Homo sapiens: one gene and its partner. The protein of the gene in region 2 purifies or fractionates together with the protein of the main gene of each other region. This does not show direct contact. Each region holds a gene or a part of one and is shown on either strand. Other genes may lie near its edges. The genes, in order: SPIN2A and SIPA1L3.

Evidence for each region.
Region 1: the proteins of SIPA1L3 (region 2) and SPIN2A purify together in Homo sapiens (affinity purification with mass spectrometry; one large-scale study listed by BioGRID and IntAct). This does not show direct contact.

Annotation. Positions count from the first base shown.
Region 1 is NC_000023.11:57,135,008-57,139,072, forward strand, and holds SPIN2A (spindlin-2A), read right to left. Parts: upstream 2,391-4,065; 5' UTR 2,253-2,390; exon of another isoform or gene 2,198-2,252; intron 2,135-2,197; exon of another isoform or gene 2,041-2,134; intron 1,870-2,040; exon of another isoform or gene 1,596-1,869; 5' UTR 1,591-1,595; coding exon 814-1,590; 3' UTR 643-813; downstream 1-642. UniProt on the Homo sapiens protein: May be involved in the regulation of cell cycle progression. Exhibits H3K4me3-binding activity.
Region 2 is NC_000019.10:37,910,033-37,913,849, forward strand, and holds part of SIPA1L3 (signal-induced proliferation-associated 1-like protein 3), read left to right. Parts: intron 1-3,817. UniProt on the Homo sapiens protein: Plays a critical role in epithelial cell morphogenesis, polarity, adhesion and cytoskeletal organization in the lens.

The DNA of each region.
Region 1 (4,065 bases), on a different chromosome or scaffold from region 2:
GTGGACACTACCAGAAGTCCAACATTTTCCTGGGCCTTCCGATCTCTCATGGGCCCCATACCCCACAACTCTTTTCCTGTATTCTCACTCCCTCTGTCAGTCTTTCTTCTTTGAATTCCTCCTTCCTCAGTGGCCCTCTTCTAATCCCTCCAACACCCTAACCCACATAGCCTCTTCCTTTGTGTATCCTTTAGCCTCTCCCAGATCCCTGTCAGGTTGATCCTTCTCCACCTTACTCTGGACCCTCTTCTAAGCTTCTTTGTGTTCCTCTCTACTCAGTTTATTCTATTTTCCTCTAAGCCCCAAGATCTCACTCTCCCTCTGTTAGTCTTCCTTCTGAGTTGGATGTTTCCTTCTCATAGGTCATCCCCTCCCCCAAGGAGCCCCTCCCTTTCTGGCCCTTTTCCACCTCTTCCTAAGCAGTCACCTCCTCCTCTCTCCCCAAGACAGCCAATCTCTTGTTCCTTCCCCTGCCCCCTCCAGACCAGACCAGCTAAATCCAGTGCCATTTTTAAATGACTGATTATGATTCTAGCTGAACTTTATTCACAGCCGAAATTGACAGCTGTTCGTTCCTTCCATGCCCCATCTACCAAACACACCCGAACTTTTCAACAAGACAAAGGGCTTACAGACAGCATGTCATGTATTCACAAATTTGTATTTTTTAGAGCAAAACAACAGTTAATGCTGGCAAAGATGTTTAGTTATCAGGGATTCCATAAGCTTTCAGTACACTGAAAGGCAACATTTTTTGCATGTCTACAAATTATACATTTGTTTCCACACATGTGCCAAATTTTACCCTAACAGTTAGGACTTTTTCACCAAATCGTAGACATAGATATGGAAATCATCATCAAACTTGATGAAATACACAGAGGGTTTGGTTTCCACTTGGTGAATGACCATGCCGATCCTTTTGGAGCCATCTTCTTTGGTATATTCCACATGCTTACCTATTAGGCCATCTACAACTCCTCCTGGCTCCCTCTCTGTTGGAGGAGACTCACTGGATTCTGGCATGATGCGGAGGTCACCTTCCTTATAATCATCTAGAAGCTGGTACATGTACAAGACAGGATCTTTCTCATAGGTAATATAAAACCAGGCTTTCATGATAGGTGCTTGAGCTAAGACCATCCCCCTCCATTCATCCTTAGAACCATGCTCTCCCTCAAACATGTGTTCCACTGCTTTGCCAATTATGGTATTTGCAAGGTTGGCATCACTAATGTGAGATGATGCCACCCTGTCAGAAAGAATTTTAAGAGACAAAACCCTTTCATCTCTGTGAAGTTCCAGTCCATAGACACAGTCAATTCCATCATATTTCACCAGATAAAGAGAGGGATTTATAGGCACCTGATCCAGAACGGTTCCTTTCCACTGCGTGATGGGCTCATCTCCTTCCTTCCATCCATGAGAAATTCTGCAGCCCACGATGTTCCTGCGGGGCTGGGATGAAGGTCGGCCTCTCTGCTTCTTTTGGGAGACTTTTTTCTTTGTCATGTTTGCAGACCCAGTGGCCCGTCCTGCAGCTGCCCTGGTTTGTTGCCCTTCGGCTTCCTGTGCGTTGGGGGTCTTCATGCCTGCTGGGGGAGGAGAGAGGATAGAGAGACACACCCAGTGTGCCACAAGGCAAACTTTTCCCTATAGCCATGTCTGGATGTAGTCTGCGCTAGTGCCTAAGTTTCCCCTAGGAGCCTGGAAGCAATGCTGGAAATCCTGGCTGCATGCCCGCAGTGCTCTCCCTCTTAAGTTCCTTTGGGCTGTGGGGAAGGGCTGGGGTGGTGCAGTAGAGCTGTCTGGGGTTAGGAACTCTGCAGAAGTGGCTGGGCCACCTCCTCCTAGCTCAGAGCCCACTGCCCTCCCTTTACCCTTTACTGCCACTAGCATCCACTCCCAATCCCCTGCAAAGCGGCCTTGACCAGCACCCACTACCCTCCTGCCCTGAGTGCCTCTGGTGCTGTCTGTAACCCCCACTGCCTATCCTAACCACTTCCCTGTTACCTACCTCCCTTGCTTCCTGGCGCTCACCTTCAAATCCTTGTCTGGCTCCTATTCCTACCCCCTTTCCCTGTCGTCCACCGCACTCCCCCACCCCACCCTTGCCTGGCGCCCAACTCCACCCCATGTCTCCTGCTGGATTCCTTCCCATCCCCCTCTCCATTCTGGCGCCCACTAATGGCCTTGCCCTGCCTGGCGTCCACCGCCGGGGATCGCGGGCCTCACGTGCCGAAATCGGATACCTCGATGCTGCCTCTGCTGTGAGCCTGTGGCGAAGGAGGGTCAACAGGCGACTCGCTGAGTGACTGCTTGCAAGAGCGGGGAGGGTAGGATCCATAGATGAGGAGCGTGTGTAGGAGCGCGGCGAGACAGGCAAAGAGCACTGCAGCGGTGTCCCCAGCGCTTCGCTCGCTGGCCGTCTACCTCCCTGTTGGTGGCGGCCACCCCTCAGCCACGTTGGGCTGCCACCAGTCCCTGATGCAGTGGCTGTAGTCTCTGCCCTTTTTCTGCACAAGACTACAGTGTTAGTTTCCTCTTAGTAGTGATGTCTTCCATTCTAATCACAGAGCAGATCTGCCTTTCTTTTCTTGGGGCCCCTCCTGGGCTCCTCCTTCCCTTTCCACAATTCACAACAGTGGAACCTGTAGGTGGCCTTTTCTCTCTTCCTGTCTCTGCTGGCTGGATCCTTCAAGCTCTCTAGCCCCTCCCCTCAGCTCTCTTGCTCCATCTGTTTTCCATCTTTCAGACATTTCTCACATTCTTTGGAAACATACAAATTAACATAGAAATACCATGTGTATACATTTATGGAGACATGAATCCTTTACGACCATATGCAAATGTGTATGTATGTATATATATATATATCTCCAAGCACATGCACATGTATAAAACTATGAATTCTGTGTACAGTTCCAGAAATTCCTATCCATAGATTCTTAATTCCAAATACACACCTCTATCCAATCACATAACTCACAGATATAATTCTCTGTATATGCATACACACTCACGAATACATACATTAAGTGTTTCTCCAAAGCATTATGTAGGCATATTTTAGATTTGGAGACCTTGCTTTGAAGAAGTATTGGCTTATTTTAAGCTTAAAGAGTTATTTTTGAATGTGATTACAATACTTAACAAACCTTATCTATTTCGCATAAAGTGAAGTCATTTTTAATTTTTGTGTGTTTTTTTGTGAGTTACAGTTTTTCACAGTATCCTATAATTCTGAAAATAATCAACAATATTAGATTGCTATATCAAGTAAGATGTTTTCAGTTACATGTTGTAGGACAACAAACCAAATGGGTGTACAATAAAAACAATATGTTGGCTAACATCTGAAAAGTTAAATAAGTGTTAGGTTAATCTTAATCTATGGTGGAATAATATTTTATTATATATATATATATATCACATTTTTTATCCATTTATTTATTGATGGACAGTTAAGTTGATTCCATATCTTGTCTATTGTGATCAGTGCTGCAAATAAATATGTGAGTGCAGATAGCTCGTTGATATGCTGATTTCCTTTCTTTTGGATATATACCCAATAGTGAGATTGCTGGATCTTAGGGAATTTGTAGTTTTAGTTTTTGGAGGAACTACCACGCTGTTTTTCATAATGGCTATGCTAATTTATATCCCCACGAGCAATTTACAAGGATACCTCTTTCTTCACTTCCTTACCAGCAGTTTTTATTTTCTGTCTTTTTGATAATAGCCATTTTAACTGGGGTAAGATGATATCTCATTGCTATTTTGATATACAATTACCTGATGATTAGCGATTTAGAATACTTTTTATATATCTGTTGTCCATTTGTGCGTCTTAGTTTGAGAAATGTCTACTCAGCTCTTTTGCCCATTTTTAAATCAGATTATTTGATTTTTTACTATTGAGTTGTTGGAATTTCTTACATATTTTTATTATTAATCCCGTCAGTTGAATACTTTGTAAATATTTTCTCTTGTTACCTAGGTTGTCTCTTCATTTTATGATTGTTTCCTTTGCTGTGCAGAAGCTTTTTAGCTGATGTGATTTCA
Region 2 (3,817 bases):
CTAAGAGTTAAATGTGAGTCTGTGTTTCAGACATTGCAGTTGTTAGGTGGTAAATCAAAAGTGGAATTTAGAATGTGCAGTGATTGGTGCCTCATTTTTTTGCTGTAAAATATATTTTACTGATATATTTCAAACATAGTCTTAGTAACTTGTAAAATGTAAATTAAATGTATTTACATTTTAATAAAAGAATTCAATAATCATTTCCTTTAAAATAAAGTGTTTGTTTTTAGCTATTAGAATGAGAGGCTATTTGGCAGGGTGCAGTGGCTCATGCCTGTAATCCCAGCACTTTGGAGGCTGAGGTGGGTGGATCACTTGAGCCCAGGAGTTTGAGAGCAGCCTGGGCAACATGGCGAAACCCCATCTCTACAAAAAATTAGTCAGGTGTGGTGGCACACATCTCTAGTCCCAGCTACCCGGGATGTTGAGGCTGTAGTGAGCTGTGATTGCAGCATTGCACTCCAGCCTGTGTGACAGAGTGAGACCCTGTCTCAGAAAAAAAAAAAAAAAAAGAATGAGAGGCTGTTGTACCAGTTTGTGCATTTGTGTATTCTTCAAGACTGATATTGCTTCCTTTTTGTTGTTTTTAGACAGAGTCTTGCTCTGTGGCCCAGGCTGGAGTGCAGTGGCACGATCTCAGCTCACTGCAACTTCCACCTCCTAGGTTCAAGCGATTCTCCTGCCTCAGCCTCCTGAGTATCTGGGATTACAGGCATATGCCACCATGCCTGGCTAATTTTTGTATTTTTAGTAGAGATGGGGTTTCGCCATGTTGGCCTCGAACTCTTGACCTCAGGTGATCCACCCACCTTGGCCTCCCAAAGTGTTGAGATTACAGGCGTGAGCCACCGTGCCTGGCCTATTGCTTCCTTTTTTTAAGGACTATTTTGGTCATGACCTTTTGTGCGTGTGTGTATGTATGTGATTGGGTTGAATTTAGCTTAAAAAAAGTTATGCAAGAAATTCATGCTTGTTGTAACGTGTCAAACAATACAGAGGTGTAGGGAAAATACCTAGTGCCACCCTCCACTCCAAAACCCCATGTCGCCAGAGATAACCATTTATTCAGACAGTGAGTATCTATTAAGTATCTATTGCTAGGCTTTGGAGATAGCATAATGAACAAAATGGATGTGCTCTCTGCCCTTGTGATTTGGACAGATGCTTCAGTTATCTTTTTCTGTGTTTATATTGATTATGTTTGTATGTATGTGCGTGTGTGTGTGTGTGTGTGTATCGACTGTTTTCTTCCTCCTCCCATACCATTCCCCAAAAAAGGAGGGGGTAGGGATCAAGCTACACCTATTTGTAACCCAGTTTTTTCAATTAATGGCTGGGCATGTCCTTCCAAGTCATTACATATAGATCTGGCTTATCCTTTTCAACAGCTGTACCCACATTCTTCAGTGCAGAGAGACCACGCTTTATTCCAGCATTCCCCCACTGCTGGTCCTTTAGGTTGTTCCTCTGAGATGTCTTTTTTTTTTTTTTGAGACGGAGTCTTGCTCTATCGCCCAGGCTGGAGTGCAGTGGCGCAATCTCAGCTCACTGCAAGCTCCGCCTCCTGGGTTCACGCCGTTCTCCTCTGCCTCAGCCTCTCCGAGTAGCTGGGACTACAGGCGCCCGCCACCACGCCCGGCTAATTTTTTGTATTTTTAGTAGAGATGGGGTTTCACCGTGGTCTCGATCTCCTGACCTCGTGATCCGCCCACCTCAGCCTCCCAAAGTGCTGGGATTACAAGCGTGAGCCACCGCGCCTGGCCCCTCTGAGATTTCTTTACCTCAGCAAACACACATCTAATAAGTATCCTTGGTGGTGGCTCAGGAGATCGAGACCATCCTGGCTAACACAGTGAAACCCCGTCTCTACTAAAAAATACAAAAAAATTAGCCAGGCGTGGTGGCCGGTGCCTGTAGTCCCAGCTGCTCAGGAGGCTGAGGCAGGAGAATGGCGTGAACCTGGGAGGCAGAGCTTGCAGTGAGCCAAGATTGTGCCACTGCACTCCAGCCTGGGCGACAGAGCGAGACTCCATCTATAAAAAAAAGAAAAAATTAGCAGGGTGTGATGATGAGAGCCTGTAATCCCAGCTACTTGGGAGGCTGAGGCAGGAGAATTGCTTGAACCAGGGAGGTGGAGGGTGCAGTGAGCCGAGATTGTACCACTGCACTCTAGCCTGAGTGACAAGAGTGACACTCTGTCTCAAAAAAAAAAAAGTATAAAAAGTATCCTTTCACATAGGCAGCATGGCCCAGTGGCTGAAGCACAAACTCTGGGGCCACATGGTCTGGGTTCACACTGTGACTCTATCCTATATTAGTTGTGATACCTTGGGCAAATCATGTGTCCTTCTGAGCCTTAGTGTCCTGATCTGAAAATGGGGATGATACCAGTGTCTTCCTTATAGGGTGGTTGTTGAGAGGTTTCATAAGATTATCTATGTCAAGCCTTCAGGGCAGGGCCAGCTGTGATCTTTTTTTTAGAGACAGGGTCACTCTGTTGCCCACGCTGGAGTGCAGTGGCGTCATCATAGCTCACTGTAACCTTGAACTCCTGGGCTCAAGTGATCCTCCCACCTCAGACTCCCTAGTAGCTGGGGCTACAGGTGTGCACCACCACACCCAGCTAATTTTTAAATTTTTGTAGAGATAGGGTCTCACACTATGTTGCCTAGACTGGTCTCGAAGTCCTGGCCTCAAATGATCCTCCCGCCTCAGCCTACATGTGTTCTTTCAAACCCAGAGAAATTCACAGGAAGAGCCAACTCAATCACTTGAAACACCAGGTAGAAATAAGAAAAAGTTATATTGCAGGGATCCCGCTTGGAGATGTTGGGGGCCTAAGGTGAGGGATCCAGCTGCCGCTGAAAGAAGGGAGGAGATTTGCCCAGGAAGACAGGAGCCAGTAAAGTGCCCTGACCACAGTGGGTGGTGGGGGTGAGGGGCTGGTGGTGGAGCATCAGTGGGAAATATCACTCCTCATATTTGCGAGAAGTGTGCCATGGTTGGAAGGTGGCTTAGGTGGCGGGCAGACCAAGTTCAAATCACAGTATAGCCACTAACTTGTAAGATGTGCACTGAGCTTTTTTCTTCATTGGCAAAATGGGTATGATAGTAGTCTTTACCTCGGGGGTCGCTGGAGACTGAATGAAATGTCTGCAAGACTTTCAGCACATTAGGCTGTCATTAGCCCTGTGCAGTTAGCTACTATTCTTATTTTATTGAGTTGACAGATGTGTTGAGACCCTGCTGTGAGCCAGGGTCCTATCCTAGGCACTGAGGATTCAGCAGTCAACAAGACAGACAAGATCCTTGCTGTCCTAGGGTTTACATTCTAGCCATTCTAGCCCGGGAAGACACACAATAAACAGGATCATTTCACTTTGTGTTTTTGAGATGGAGTCTCGCTGTCACCCAGGCTGGCACAATCTCAGCTCACTGCAACCACTGCCTCCCAAGTTCAAGCCCATCTCCTGCCTCAGGCTCCTGAGTAACTGGGATTACAGGCATGCGCCACTATGCCCTGCTGATTTTTGTATTTTTAGTAGAGGAGGGGTTTTGCCATGTTAGCCAGGCTGGTCTTGAACTCCTGACCTCAGGTGATCTGCCTACCTTGGCCTTGTACAGTGCTGGGATTACAGGCGTGAGCCACTGTGCCCAGCCTTTTCTTTCTTTTTTTTTTTTTTAATTAAAAAAAATCCTGGCTGGGCACAGCGGCTCACGCCTGTGATCACAGCACTTTGGGAGGCTGAGGCGGGCAGATCACGAGGTCAGGAGATCGAGACCATCCTGGCTAACAAGGTGAAACCCCGTCTCT